Linked DNA regions of Homo sapiens. The gene in region 1 interacts genetically with each later gene. Each region holds a gene or a part of one and is shown on either strand. Other genes may lie near its edges.

The links. A genetic interaction does not mean that the proteins touch.
Region 2: changes in CAMLG (region 1) and LEO1 impair growth when combined (synthetic growth defect), as found in Homo sapiens cells (one study listed by BioGRID).

What each region holds. Positions count from the first base shown.
Region 1 is NC_000005.10:134,741,548-134,749,011, forward strand, and holds part of CAMLG (guided entry of tail-anchored proteins factor CAMLG), read left to right. Parts: intron 1-2,439; coding exon 2,440-2,505; intron 2,506-7,464. UniProt on the Homo sapiens protein: Required for the post-translational delivery of tail-anchored (TA) proteins to the endoplasmic reticulum.
Region 2 is NC_000015.10:51,961,447-51,968,910, reverse strand, and holds part of LEO1 (RNA polymerase-associated protein LEO1), read left to right. Parts: intron 1-2,406; coding exon 2,407-3,162; intron 3,163-6,417; coding exon 6,418-6,522; intron 6,523-7,464. UniProt on the Homo sapiens protein: Component of the PAF1 complex (PAF1C) which has multiple functions during transcription by RNA polymerase II and is implicated in regulation of development and maintenance of embryonic stem cell pluripotency.

The sequences.
Region 1 (7,464 bases):
AACTAACTTAATGGAAAATGCAAAATGTTAATAATTATGAGTGCTTTTGATCATAGAAGTCATTGCCAGTATTAATATCTACCAGATCCATGTGGCTGTTTGAAGATATATTATTAACTTTGCTATTCATCTCATAGAATGAAGTGTTCTGGTTAAATACAGAGCCTAATAATTACTGTTGGCCCTCCATATCAGTTGGTTCTGCACCCTATGTGGATTCAACCAATTGTGGATTGAAAATATTTGGATTTAGCCGGGCGTGGTGGTGCACGCCTGTAATCCCAGTTACTTGGGAGGCTGAGGCAGGAGAATCGCTTGAACCCGGGAGGTGGAGGTTGCAGTGAGCCAGGATAACGGCACTGCACTCCAGCCTGGGTGACAGAGTGAGACCCCGTCTCAAAAATATATGTATGTGTATATATTTGGGGGAAAAATAACAATACAACAATAACAAATAGTAAATAATACAAATAAAAACAGTATAACAACTATTTACATTGCATTAGGCATAAAAAATCTAGAAATGATTTAAAGTATATGGGAGGAAGTGAGTAGGTTATATTTACTGTGCCGTTTTACATAAGGGACTTGAGCATCTATGGATTTTGGTATCAGGAGGAACCTGGTACCAGTCCTCTGCTGATACTGAGGGATGACTGTACTAAAACCCATTTTTCATTCTACGGACCTTTCTCATTGTTTTGCATACATTAATTCATCTAATCCTCATTCTTATGAACTTGGTATTATGTGAATCCATTGGGAAATGAAGACTCAGAGAGGTTAAACCATTTGCCCAAGGTCACACAGCTACTAAGCGGTGCTAGGATTAAACCCTGGCAGTTTCAGTCCTTAACCAAAGGGTTAAGTGCTTTACATATATATACTGTATATTATCAATTTTCAAATAATTTGAAATAGTAAAATGCAGTTCCTCTGGTCCTGAATATGAGGTAATCTTCCTATGGTTCAGAAGACATTTCAGCATTTCCTAATATATCATAATGAGTCCATTTTGGTTGTACCATGATGTAGTCATTTTGTTTTATAGTATATTAAAGAATGCAGAAAAGCATAGCTCATAGTTCAGTGTCTTGCTCTGAGGTTTTTCCATTCAGTAGACATTTTAAGTATATGTACCAGGCACATAAATATCCAGATAATTAAAGTTTATATCATTAAGCAAAACAGTTTTTGTAAATCTTTTTTTTTTTGAGGTGGAGTTTCTTTCGCCAGGCTGGAGTGCAGTGATGTGATCTTGGCTCACTGCAACCTCCACCTCCTGGGTTCAAGCGATTCTCCTGCCTTAGCCTCCCGAGTAGCTGGGACTACAGGCATGTGCCAACACGCACGGCTAATTTTTTGTATTTTTAGTAGAGATGGGGTTTCACCGTGTTAGCCAGGATGGTCTCCATCTCCTGACCTCATGATCCACCCAACTCTGCCTCCCAAAGTGCTGGGATTACAGGCATGAGCCGCCGCACCCAGCCAAGCATTTAGTTTTGTTGTTGTTGTTGTTTTAGAGATAGGATCTTGCTATGGTGTCCAGGCTGGACTAGAACTTCTGGGCTCAAGCAGTCCTCCTGCCTCAGCCTTCTGCATAGCTGGAAGAATGCCACGTATTTTGAGTGCTGGGCCTTTTCTGTATGCTTCCTGGATATCAATTAATTCCCTCTGGGTGACCGAGATGTTACCGCATCTGTGTTACTGTGTTAAACATCTGTCACCATTTAATACTTTAAATAATTTAAAAGATAAGTTTTTATGAGAGAAGACAGTTTTGGGGACGCTAAAAGAATATGAAAGAATTGTATGACTTGAGAAACATATTTTATGTTAGGAAATCAAATATTTTATTTTCTTCACCCTTCTGCAGAAAAAAGATTACTTTTAACCATTAAAATTACTATTTTATGGGAGGCTGAGGCAGGAGAATTGCTTGGACTGGGGAGGCAGGGGTTGCAGTGAGCTGAGATTGAGCCACTGCACTCCAGCCTGGGTGACAGAGCGAGACTCCATCTTAAAAAAAAAAAGCAATTGCCAGGCGCGGTGTCTCATACCTGTAATCCCAGCATGTTGGGAGGCCGAGGTGGGTGGATCACGAGGTCAGGAGTTCTAGACCATACTGGCCAACATGGTGAAACCCTGTCTCTACTAAAAATACAAAAATTAGCCAGGTGTGGTGGCGGGCGCCTGTAATCCCATCTACTCAGAAGGCTGAGGCACGAGCATCGCTTGAATCTGGGAGGTGGATGTTGCCATGAACCAAGATCGTGCCACTGCACTCAGCCTGGGTGACAGAGGAAGACTCCGTCTCAAAAAATAATAATAACAACATTTTCTTACAGCTTTTGCTTGGAATTTTCTAGCTGCTGTTTGATTTATTGTGATTTGAATGATTATGTTGGAAATATTTAATTTTATCTTCTATCTTCACAGTCCATATTTGCTCCATTTCTTACTTTACAACTTGCGTACATGGGATTATACAAATATTTTCCCAAGGTAAATTAATTTTTTTTCTAAATTTCGATGATGTGTTTGGATTGATTTATGACTAGCTAATTGAAGGAACTTAAAAATGTTAGTCCTGCTTACGGTCTGAATCAGTGCTACTCAAAGTGTGGTTTGCCCACTTATCTCCAAACTATGTGTTTGTGTTTGTTATACATTAAGTTCAAAAAATGAGTAATTGGCCGGGCGCAGTGGCTCACGCCTGTAATCCCCACACTCTAAGAGGCTGAGGTGGGTGGATCACCTGAGGTCAGGAGTTCAAGACCAGCCTGGCCAACATGGTGCAACCCCATCTCTGCTAAAAATACAAAAATTAGCCAGGTATGGTGACGCACACCTGTAATTCCAGCTACTCAGGAGGCTGAGGCAGGAGAGTTGCTCCAACCCAGGAGGCAGAGGTTGCAGTGAGCCAAGATTGCGCCACTGCACTGCTCCAGTCTGGGTGACAGAGTGAGACTCTGTCTCCAAAAAAAAAAAAAAAAAAAGAGTAATTAGAAACTTTTATAGCAATTTGACATTGCCATAACATTGTTATTCTGTTTTACAAAAATACTGTGGATTGAGGTCCTTCATGAAAAAGTGTGAATAGTACTTGTTTAAGCAAAGTATTAAATTTAATTAGTAAATTTAGTAATTCATTTTGTCTATAATAAAGGAAATTAATTAAAAAATGGATTTGATTATCTCATTGTACTTCATATTGGACACTTAATAGCAGTGCACTTTATCTTCAGTGTTGAGGGCCTGATATTTGCAATAAATATTTGGCCAATATTACAGAACAGAATGATGTTGAGAGTCAATGTTTACCTGGCCTACTTGACTACAGATATATACAGTTTTATGAGGCTTGGCTTGCCTGACATAGACGATAGCCTAACTAGTGTGATCGAATTTTGTGGGAGCTTTTTGCTGAAAAAATTGCTACTTGGCTGTCTGCGTGTTATATTTAATGGGCTGACAGACCTGTGTATGATTTTAATGGATTTGAAGCATTTGTATTTTTGAAGGGTCAAATAGGTCAAATATAAGAAGTAAAAGAGTAAATAACATTGTAATTTTAATTAAGCATTTGTTTAGAAATTCACCTTTGAGGCGGGGCGCGGTGGCTCACGCCTGTAATCCCAGCACTTAGGGAGGCTGAGGCAGGTGGATCACGAGGTCAAGAGATCGAGAGCATCCTGGCTGACAGGGTGAAATCCCATCTCTACTAAAAATACAAAAGTTAGCCGGGCGTGGTGGCAGGCACCTGTAGTCCCAGCTACTCGGGAGGCTGAGGCAGGAGAATGGCGTGAACCTGGGAGGCGGAGCTTGCAGTGAGCCGAGATTGCGCCACTGTACTCCAGCAGCCTGGGCGACAGAGCGAGACTCCTCAAAAAAAAAAAAAAAAGAAAGAAATTCACCTTTGAGGCTGGGCGCCGTGGCTCACGCCCTAATCCCAGCACTTTCGGAGGCTGAGGGGGGTGGATCACCTGAGGTCAGGAGCTCGAGACTGGCCTGGCCAACATGGCGAAACCCCATCTCTACTAAAAATATAAAAATTACCCAGGCATGGTTGCGGGTGCCTGTAATCCCAGCTACTTGGGAGGCTGAGGCAGGGAGAATCACTTGAAACTGGGAGGTGGAGGTTGCAGTGAGCCCAGACTGTGCCATTGCACTCCAGCCTGGGCAACAGAGCGAGACTGTCTCAAAAAAAAAAAAAGAAAATCACCTTTGAAACATTGATTGTAGTTTTGCAGTAGCAAAGTTTGGAACCTAAATGTCCACTGAGTGACTACATTAAAAAAAAAAAATTGGCCAGGCACGGTGGCTCATGCCTGTAATCCCAGCACTTTGGGAGGCCGAGGCGGGCGGATCAGCTGAGGTCGGGATTTCGAGACCAGCCTGACCAACATGGAGAAACCCCGTCTCTACTACAAATTCAAAATTAGCCAGGCATGGTGGCGCATGCCTGTAATCCCAGCTACTCAGGAGGCTGAGGCAGGGGAATCACTTGAACCCAGGAGGTGGAGGTTGTGGTGAGCCGAGATCGCACCATTGCACTTCAGCCTGGGCAACAAAGCAAAACTCCATCTCAAAAAAAAAAAAAAAAAAAAATTATAACGTATCTATTCAGAATGAAGATGCTCTCAATGTACTGACAATGGTAAGCTCTCCAAGAAATATTAAGAGAAAAAAAAACAAAATTCAGAATAGAATCTATAGAATCTATACTAATTTCTTTTTGAAAAGAAAAAATAATGTATTATTTGATTTTGCTTATATATGCATAAACAAACTGAAAGACTATACATGAAATTATTAACAATACTTATGTGTGTGATAGAGATGTATATATGGGTACTATGTAAATGGAAGAGAGAAAAGGGAGACTTTATATATTCTCCCAACAAAACAGCATTTTGTTATAGCAGGGTTTTTTTTGCTTGTTTGTTTTTGAGACAGAGTATCACTCTGTCGCCCAGGCTGAAGTGCAGTGGCACGATCTCAGCTCACTGCAGCCTCCGCCTCCTGTGTTCATTCTCCTGCCTCAGCCTGCCAAGTAGCTGTGACTACAGGTGTGAGTGACCACACCCACTTAATTTTTGTATTTTTAGTAGAGACGAGGTGTCACCGTGTTGGTCAGTCTGGTCTGGAACTCCCAGCCTCAGGTGATCTGCCCACCTGGGCCTTCCAAAGTGCTGGGATTACAGGTGTGAGCCACTGCACCTGGCCTGTTATAGCAGTTTTTAAACACAAAAGTTGGCCAGGCGTGGTGCCTCACGCCTGTAATCCCAGCACTTTGGAAGGCCATGGTGGGCAGATCACCTGAGGCTGGGAGTTCTTGACCAACCTGGCCAACATGGTGAAACGCTATGTCTGCTGAAAATACAAAAATTAGCTTGGCATGGTGGGTACAGACCTGTAATCCCAGCTACTCAGTGTCTGAGGCAGGAGAATTGCTGACCCGGTGGCAGAGGTTTACAGTGAGCCAAGACAGCGCCACTGCACTCCAGCCTGGGCGACAGAGCAAGACTCCATCTCAAAAATAAATAAACACAAAAGTTGAAAGAATTGTGCCGTGAACACCCATTTATATAATACCAACGACCTAGATTCTACAATTAACATCTTATTATATTATGTATCTATCAGGTTTTCTTTTATTTTTCAAACCCAAGATAATCTCTGTAAAGTTTTTCCATCAAATTTTTCTTGATGCATTTCAAAGTATGTTGTAGGTGTACACATCGGTATACCTCACCCCTCTTACATAACACTGACTTACAATTTACTGTTTTAAGGTTCTTTAGGTAATTTTTTTTTTTTGAGACGAGGCTTGCTCTGTCACCCAGGCTGGAGTGCCATCTCGGCTCACTGCAAGCTCCGCCTTCCGGGTTCACACCATTCTCCTACCTCAGCTTCCCAAGTAGCTGGGACTACAGGCGCCCGCCATCACGGCCGGCTAATTTTTTTTTGTATTTTTAGTAGAGACGGGGTTTCACCGTGTTAGCCAGGATGGTCTCGATCTCCTGACCTCATGATCCGCCTGCCTCGGCCCCCCAAAGTGCTGGGATTACAGGCATGAGCCACCATGCTCGGCATTTTTTTTTTTTTTTGAGACGGAGTCTCGCTCTGTCACCAGGCAGGAGTGCAGTGGCACAATCTTGGCTCACTGCAACCTCCACCTCCCAGGTTCAAGCGATTCTTCCACCTCAGCCTCCCGAATAGCGGGGACTACAGGCACACGCCACCAAGCCCAGCTAATTTTTGTAATTTTAGTAGAGACGGGGTTTCACCATGCTGACCAGGATGGTCTCTTTCTTTTTTTTTTTTTTTGAGATGGAGTCTTGCTCTTTCGCCAGGCTGGAGTGCAGTGGCGAGATCTCAGCTCACCACAACCTCCGCCTCCCAGGTTCAAGCGATTCCCCTGCCTCAGCCTCCCAAGTAGCTGGGATTACAGGCATGTGCCACCACACCTGGCTAATTTTTTTTGTATTTCAGTAGAGACGGGGTTTCACCATGTTGGCCAAGACAGCCTTGATCTCCTGACCTGATTATCTGCCCACCTCGGCCTCCTAAAGTGCTAGAATTAGCTGGTCTCTGGTCTCTATCTCTTGACCTTGTGATTCGCCCACCTCCGCTTCCCAAAGTGCTGGGATTACAGGTGTGAGCCACCGCACCTGGCTTTTAGGTAAAATTTTAAGGTAAAATTAGTTCTGAGGCCGGGTGCAGTGGTTCACACCTGTAATCCCAGCACTTTGGGAGGCCGAGATGGGCGGATCACCTGAAGTCAGGAGTTCAAGACCAGTGTGGCCAACATGGTGAAACCCCATCTCTACAAAAATTTGCCGGGCATGATGGTGGGTACCTATAATCCCAGCTACCGGGGAGGCTGAGGTGGGAGAATCGCTTGAACCCAGAAGGCGGAGGTTGCAGTGGGCCGAGATCCTGCCATTGCACTCCAGCCTGGTCGACAGAGCAAGACTACGTCTCAAACAAAAAAAATTAGTTCTAATATGAAGAGTAGGGTACCAGCGTAATTAATTGATTGCTTGAAATGCTTGTCTTAATTGTACCATTTAATACGTTTGTTATCCTATGAAACCCATACCTCTTTCAAGGTTTATAACTTCACTGTCACCCCAGGAGTTTCTTTCATGCTCCTTTCCAGGCAGTCCCAGTCCCTATACCCCAAAGAACTTTTTCCCACGATAGATTAGTTGTGTCTGGCATAGTAATCCATGTAAGTGGGATCATTCTTGATTTTACTTTTTTGTGCAAGCCTTCTTTATTCCGCATGATATTTTTGAGATTTATCCATGTTGTTGGATAAATCAGTAGTTAATTCCTTTTTTTTTCTTGGCTCAGTAATACTACATTGTATGACTATATCCATTTATCTAGTCTCCTATAGATGGACATCCTGGTTGTTTTCAGTTTTGGGGTTATTATGACTAAAACTAAGAG
Region 2 (7,464 bases), on another chromosome or scaffold:
ATAAAGACACTTATCAGATACATGGTTTGCAAATATTTTCTTCCATTCTGTAGGTTGTTTTTTCACTTTCCTTTTTTTTTTTGAGACGGAGTCTTGCTCTGTCGCCCAGGCTGGAGTGCAGTGGCGCAATCTCGGCTTACAGCAACCTCCGCCTTCTGGGTTCAAGTGATTATTCTGCTTCAGCCTCCCAAGTAGCTGGGACTACAGGCATGCACCACCACGCCTGGCTAATTTTTGTATTTTTAGTAGAGATGGGGTTTCACCATATTGGCCAGGCTGTTCTCAAACTCCTGACCTCGTGATCCACCCACCTCAGCCTCCCAAAGTGCTGGGATTACAGGCGTGAGCCACTGCGCCTGGCCTTCACTTACTTTTTTTTTTTGGAGACAGAGTCTCCCCTTTCATGCAGTGGCACGATCTCGGCTCACTGCAACCTCCGCTTCCTAGGTTTAAGGGATTCTTATGCCTCATTATTCCCAGTAGCTGGGATTACAGGCGTGTGCCCCCATGCCCAGCTAATTTTTGTATTTTTAGTAGACAGGGTTTCACCATGTTGGTCAGGCTGGTCTGGAACTCCTGACCTCAGGTGATCTTCCCACCTTGGGCTCCTAGAGTGCTGAGATTACAGGCATGAGCCACCGCACCCAGCCAAAAGATTTTATTGTCCTCTAAGACATTAACCAGTTTTGAACTTAACTTAGCAATATTATGTATTTATTTATTTATTTGAGATGGAGTCTTGGTCTGTTGCCCAGGCTGGAGTGCAGTGCTATGATCTTGGCTCACTGCAACCTCCATCTCCTGGGTTCAAGCGATTGTCCTGCCTCAGCCTCCCAAGTAGTGGGCTCACAGGCGTAAGCCACCATGCCTGGCTAATTTTTGTATTTTTAGTAGAGATGGGGTTTCACCATGTTGGCCAGGCTGATCTCAAACTCCTGACCTCAGGTGATCCAGCCACCTTGGCTTCCCAAAGTGTTGGGATTACAGGCATGAGCCACTGCGCCGGGCCTACTTTCTTAATAACGTCCTTTGCTGCACAAAAGTTTTTCATTTTGTGGAAGTCCAATTTATGTTTTCTTTTGTCTTCCATATCGTCTTAGTTTTTGAAGCATAATTTTACTGAATATAAAATTCTTGGTTGACAGTCTTTCTTTTTAGCACTTTGAATGTGTCCTCTTATGGATGGCTCTGGGATTCCTTGGTTTCTGATGAAAAATCAGCTGTTACTCTTATTGAGCGTTCCTCATATGGGATGAACTGCTTCTCTTTTGCCCGCTTTTGGAATTGTTTCTTTGTCTTTGACAGTCTGATAACAATGTTTCTAGGTGTAAACCTCTGTAAGTTTATCCTACTTGTCATTTGTTGAACTTGTTGGATGTGTAGATCTATATTTTTCATAAATTTGGGAGTTCTTCAGCTATCATTTATTTATTCTTTTGAGACAGAGTCTCGCTTTGTCACTCAGGCTAGAGTGCAATGGTGTGGTCTCGGCTCACTGCAACCTCCACCTCCTGGATCCAAGCGATTTTCCTGTTTCAGCCTCTCAAGTAGCTGGGATTACAGGCTTGCGCCACCATACCTGGCTAACTTTTGTATTTTTAGTAGAGATGGGGTTTTGCCATGTTGGCCAGCCTGGTCTCGAACTCCTGACCTCAAGTGATCTGCCCGCCTTGGCCTCCCAAAGTGCTGGGATTACAGGTGTGAACCACCATGCCTGGCCTCAGCTATTATTTAAGAATCTTTTTCTGCTCATTTCTCTTCTTCTGAGACTCCATTATGCATACATTGGTATAACTTAAGGTGTCCCATAAATCTTCTAGACTCCGTTCCTTTCTCTTTATTCTTTTTTCTTTCTGTTTCTCAGATTGGACAGTCGAACTGAGGTATCTTCAAGTTTACTGATTCTTTCTTTTTCCTGCTCAAATCTTTGGTTGAGCCCCTCTAGTGACTCTTTGATTTTAGTAAATATATTTTTCTTTTTCTTTTTCTTTTTTTTCTTTGAGACAAAGTCTCACTCTGTCGCCCAGGCTGGAGTGCAGTGGCTTGATCTCCGCTCACTGCAACTTCTGCCTCCCGGGTTCAAGTGATTCTCCTGTCTCAGCCTCCTGAGTAGCTGGGATTACAGGCATGTGCAACCATGCCTGGCTAAATTTTGTATTTTTAGTAGAGACAGGGTTTCGCTATGTTTGTCAGGCTGGTCTCGAACTCCTGACCTCAGGTGATCTGCCTGCCTCGGCTTCCCAAAGTGCTGGGATTACAGGCGTGAGCCACTGCACCCGGCCTTAGAATGTTAATTCTAACAGTTTTTGCCAGTTTCTTCATTGCTTTTATGTTGGGATGGACTTTGGGACTGCCTTACTCTGCCTTTTTTTGCTTATGTTATCCTATGTTTATATGACCCCATAGATTCTGATTCTGGATCTGACTCAGATTCTGATCAAGAGAATGCTGCCTCTGGCAGTAATGCCTCTGGAAGTGAAAGTGATCAGGATGAAAGAGGTGATTCAGGACAACCAAGTAATAAGGAACTGTTTGGAGATGACAGTGAGGACGAGGGAGCTTCACATCATAGTGGTAGTGATAATCACTCTGAAAGATCAGACAATAGATCAGAAGCTTCTGAGCGTTCTGACCATGAGGACAATGACCCCTCAGATGTAGATCAGCACAGTGGATCAGAAGCCCCTAATGATGATGAAGACGAAGGTCATAGATCGGATGGAGGGAGCCATCATTCAGAAGCAGAAGGTTCTGAAAAAGCACATTCAGATGATGAAAAATGGGGCAGAGAAGATAAAAGTGACCAGTCAGATGATGAAAAGATACAAAATTCTGATGATGAGGAGAGGGCACAAGGATCTGATGAAGATAAGCTGCAGAATTCTGACGATGATGAGAAAATGCAGAACACAGATGATGAGGAGAGGCCTCAGCTTTCCGATGATGAGAGACAACAGCTATCTGAGGAGGAAAAGGCTAATTCTGATGATGAACGGCCGGTAGCTTCTGATAATGATGATGAGAAACAGAATTCTGATGATGAAGAACAACCACAGCTGTCTGATGAAGAGAAAATGCAAAATTCTGATGATGAAAGGCCACAGGCCTCAGATGAAGAACACAGGCATTCAGATGATGAAGAGGAACAGGATCATAAATCAGGTAATACATTTATGAGAACCAGAATGGCTCAGAAAGAAGCATTCAGATACAGCAGGGACCCATTTAGTCTTTATTCCCATCTTTATTACCCTGTTTTTTCTCTTCTGTCCCCTCCCTTTCAAACTTTTCTAACTCTAGAATACATTTTGCTTCTTTTAAATCTTTCTAATCCACTTATTCTTTCTTACTCCTTTCCCTTCCATTTGTTAATGGATAGGTCTGGGGGAAAACAATTTAAAGAGGACTTAAAATTGAGTCTTAGAGGGAGGGATATGGTGTAAGAAGAGCTGATAATGAGTTAAGTTGATTCCATTTCTGTGGATAACTGAAGAGCATGCCTCATGTGAGAGAATAGATTAGCCTGGGGAAAAAAACCATACCATTGAAGTGTCCCCACAGAGCAGCTGTACTGAGATGTGGGCACCATTGCTGCAGCTCAGCTTTTTGAGATCCAAAATTTGATCATCCAGAGATGGTCAAGCTCTAAGGAGTTTACTCAAACTAGTCAAATTTACAAGATATTAATGTATAAAATTGAATTGCAAAATTGTTTCAAGAGGATCAGTTATTTCTCCCTTATCACCCCATATGTTTCCCCGGGGGCAAATCTAGCGTGGATGGCAAATTATAATAATCAGGAGGTTGCCCAGGGAGTATAATATGTAGAAAGTGCAAACATGGCTGGGTGATCTCAATGGACAGTGTTACTGAGCCAAGACAGATTGATGGGTGTATCCTCACCCTACAGAGACGAGCTTGGGTTACAGCACTCATTCCCTAAAGACTACAGGAGGCATACACCTGAACTTTGGTTCCTGGACCTGCTTTTATCATTGCCATTTAGACTATTCTGCTCAAGTTAACACATTCTTCATATAGAATGTACAAAAAATTAGAGATCATATTTCTTTGTATTATATAAAAGTTACCTTAATTAAGTTGAAGTCTTCCTGAAATACCTGGATTGCTTCATTTCCATAGGTGATTGATTATATTAATTATATTTTGATCCTATCTTCTTAGCTTAAATATGAGGGCATCTAACACACACCTCACAGGACAGGATTCAGAAACCACATCTTGGTGTTATTAGAAGAGGAGGGCAGCATATTTCCAGAGATGAATATAGATCTGTGTAGACTATGGGACTGCAGTAAGTTTTCAATAACTAATTCAGAGTAGAGGTTTTTTTTTTTTTTTTAACACTTTAAGTTCTAGGGTACATGTGCACAACGTGCAGGTTTGTTACATAGGTATACATGTGCCATGTTGGTGTGCTGCACCCATCAACTCGTCATTTACATTAGGCATTTCTCCTAATGCTATCCCTCCCCCTGCCCCTCACCCCATGACAGGCCCCGGTGTGTGATGTTCCCTGCCCTGTGTCCAACTGTTTTCATTACTCAGTTCCCACCTATGAGTGAGAACATGCGGTGTTTGGTTTTCTGTCCTTGTGATAGTTTGCTGAGAATGATGGTTTCCAGCTTCATCCATGTCCCTCATGTCCCTGCAAAGGACATGAACTCATCCTTTTTTTTTTTTTGAGACGGAGTCTCGCTCTGTCTCCCAGGCTGGAGTGTAGTGGCATGATCTCAGCTCACTGCAAGCTCCGCCTCCTGGGTTCACGCCATTCTCCTGCCTCAGCCTCCCGAGTAGCTGGGACTACAGGCACCCGCCACCACGCCCGGCTAATTTTTTGTATTTTTAGTAGAGACAGGGTTTCACCGTGTTAGCCAGGATGGTCTCGATCTCCTGACCTCGTGATCCGCCTGCTTCGGCCTCCCAAAGTGCTGGGATTACAGGCGTGAGCCACTGCGCCCGGCCACTCATTTTTTTTTTTTTTTTTTTTTTGAGACAGAGTCTCTGTCATCCAGGCTGGAGTGCAGTGGCACCATCTTGGCTCACTGCAATCTCCACCTCCTGGGTTCAAGCAATTCTTCTGCCTCAGCTTCCTGAGTAGCTGGGATTAAAGGTGTGCACCACCAAACCCAGCTAATTTTTGTATTTGTAGTAGAGAGGAAGTTTCCCCATGTTGGCCTGGCCGGTCTCGAACTCCTGATCTCAGGTGATCTGCCCACCTTGGCCTCCCAAAGTGCTGGGATTACAGGCAAGAGCCACCATGCCTGGCCGAAAGTAGGGCTGTTTTTACTGTTACCAGAAAGAATCTTTAAGGCTCATGTACTACATCCCAAATACTAGAAGACCAAGTCAAGGGCAGGGTCATAGTAGGGAACCTTGTAGCTGGTCATTCTGCTTATCTCTTACTAGTTCAACAGTGGTTCTGTTGATTTTTGTGACATTTTTACGTAAATAATTGGCCCTTCTAGAAATAATGATATATTTGTCAGTTCCTTTTTAATCTTTTTACCTTTTTTTCCCTGAAATTTGTCTTATGTAAATTTGATAAGTTTTAGTGCTACTTTTCTCATTTCTACCAAGTTTTTGTACTTGCAAAGCCAGTATATTTATTTATTTGAGACAGTCTCGCTCTGTCACCCAGGCTGGAGTGCAGTGGTGCGATCTTGGCTCACTGCACCATCAGTCTCCCAGGTTCAAATGATTCTCTTGCCTCAGCCTCCTAAGTAGCTGGGACTACAGGTGCACGCTACCACACCCGGCTAATTTTTGTATTTGTAGTAGAGATGGGTTTCACCATGTTGGCCAGGCTGGTCTTGAATTCCTGACCTCAAGTGATCCACCCACCTCGTCCTCTCAAAGTGCTGGGATTACAGGCATGAGCCACCACAACTGGCACCAGTATTTATTTTAAGAATTCTGTTTTTTAAATTAACACACACTAGAGTTAATTTTTTGGGGGGGGGGCATGTTCTGCATGTACAGCTCTATTCATGTTAACATATCTATAGATTTGTCTAACCACCACCACACTCAGGATGCAGAATCGCTGTCACACTGAAAAACTCCCTTATGCTATCCCTTTTGAGTCGTATCTTTCTGCTACCCCTAAACCCTGGCACCTACTGGTCTTTTCTGTCACTAAACTTTTGGTTTTTTGGAAATGTCATATAAATAGAGTTATACAGTAAGTATGTAGTCTTTCAGATTGGCCTCTTTAACTTGGCATATAGCATTTTTGATTCATCCAATTGGTTACATGTATCAGCAGTTCATTCCTCTTTATTGCTGAGTAGTAGTCCATTGTATCACAATTTGTTTATCTCCAATATTGCTTTTAAAACACAAAATTCAACTAATGCGACTGATTATGCAGAACTTCTAATTCTACCCTTATAGAATCTGCAAGAGGCAGTGATAGTGAAGATGAAGTTTTACGAATGAAACGCAAGAATGCGATTGCATCTGATTCAGAAGCGGATAGTGACACTGAGGTGCCAAAAGGTATCCCTATTATTATATATATATGTATATTTCCATACCTCTTTCTGTATTTAACTGTAGTGCATTTCTAACCCTGAGTGTGTTTACCCCAGATCGCCAGACCCACAGAATAAGAGTGTGGATACGCTCAGTGTACTCAGAGAAGTTATATAGCTATGAGAAGCTGCTCATGCTTAATTAGTTGAAGAAGAACCTGCCTCTTTGTAGTTTTTTTTTTTTTTTTTAAGAGACAGAGTCTTGCTCTGTCACCCACGCTGGAGTGCAGTGGTGCAAGCTCAGCTTATTGCAACTGCTGCCTCCTGGGTTCAAGCAATTCTCCTCCCTCAGCCTCCTGGTAGCTGGAATTACAGGAACGTACCACCATGCCTGGCTAAATTTTTTGTATTTTTAGTAGAGGTGGGGTTTCACTATGTTGGCCAGGTTGGTCTCGAACTCCTGATCTCAAGTGTTCCACCCACCTCAGCCTCCCGAAGTGCTGGGATTACAGGCGTGAATCACTGCGCCCAGTCTGTTTATAGTTAGAGTGAATTCATTATTAGGGGGCTGACCTTCTTATTGGGATGGAGGTTACAATGTCCATTCTTCACTTTGAATAATGACAGTCTCGGTGTTTTGTTCCTAAGTTCTTGACTTAGATGAAGAAACTGATTCTTTGAGCTGTGAGTTAGATGAAGAGCTCATAAAAACCCAGTGTTGGCTGGGTGCAGTGGCTCACGCCTGTAATCCCAGCACTTTGGGAGGCCAAGGTGGGTGGATCACTTGAGGCCAGGAGTTCAAGACCAGCTTGGCCAACATGGTGAAGCCCTGTCTGTACTAAAAATACAAAACATTAGCGGGGCGAGGTGGTGTGCATCTGTAGTCCCAGCTACTTGGGAGGCTGAGGCACGAGAATCGCTTGTGCTCGGGAGGCAGAGGTTGCAGTAAGCCAAGGTCGCACCACTG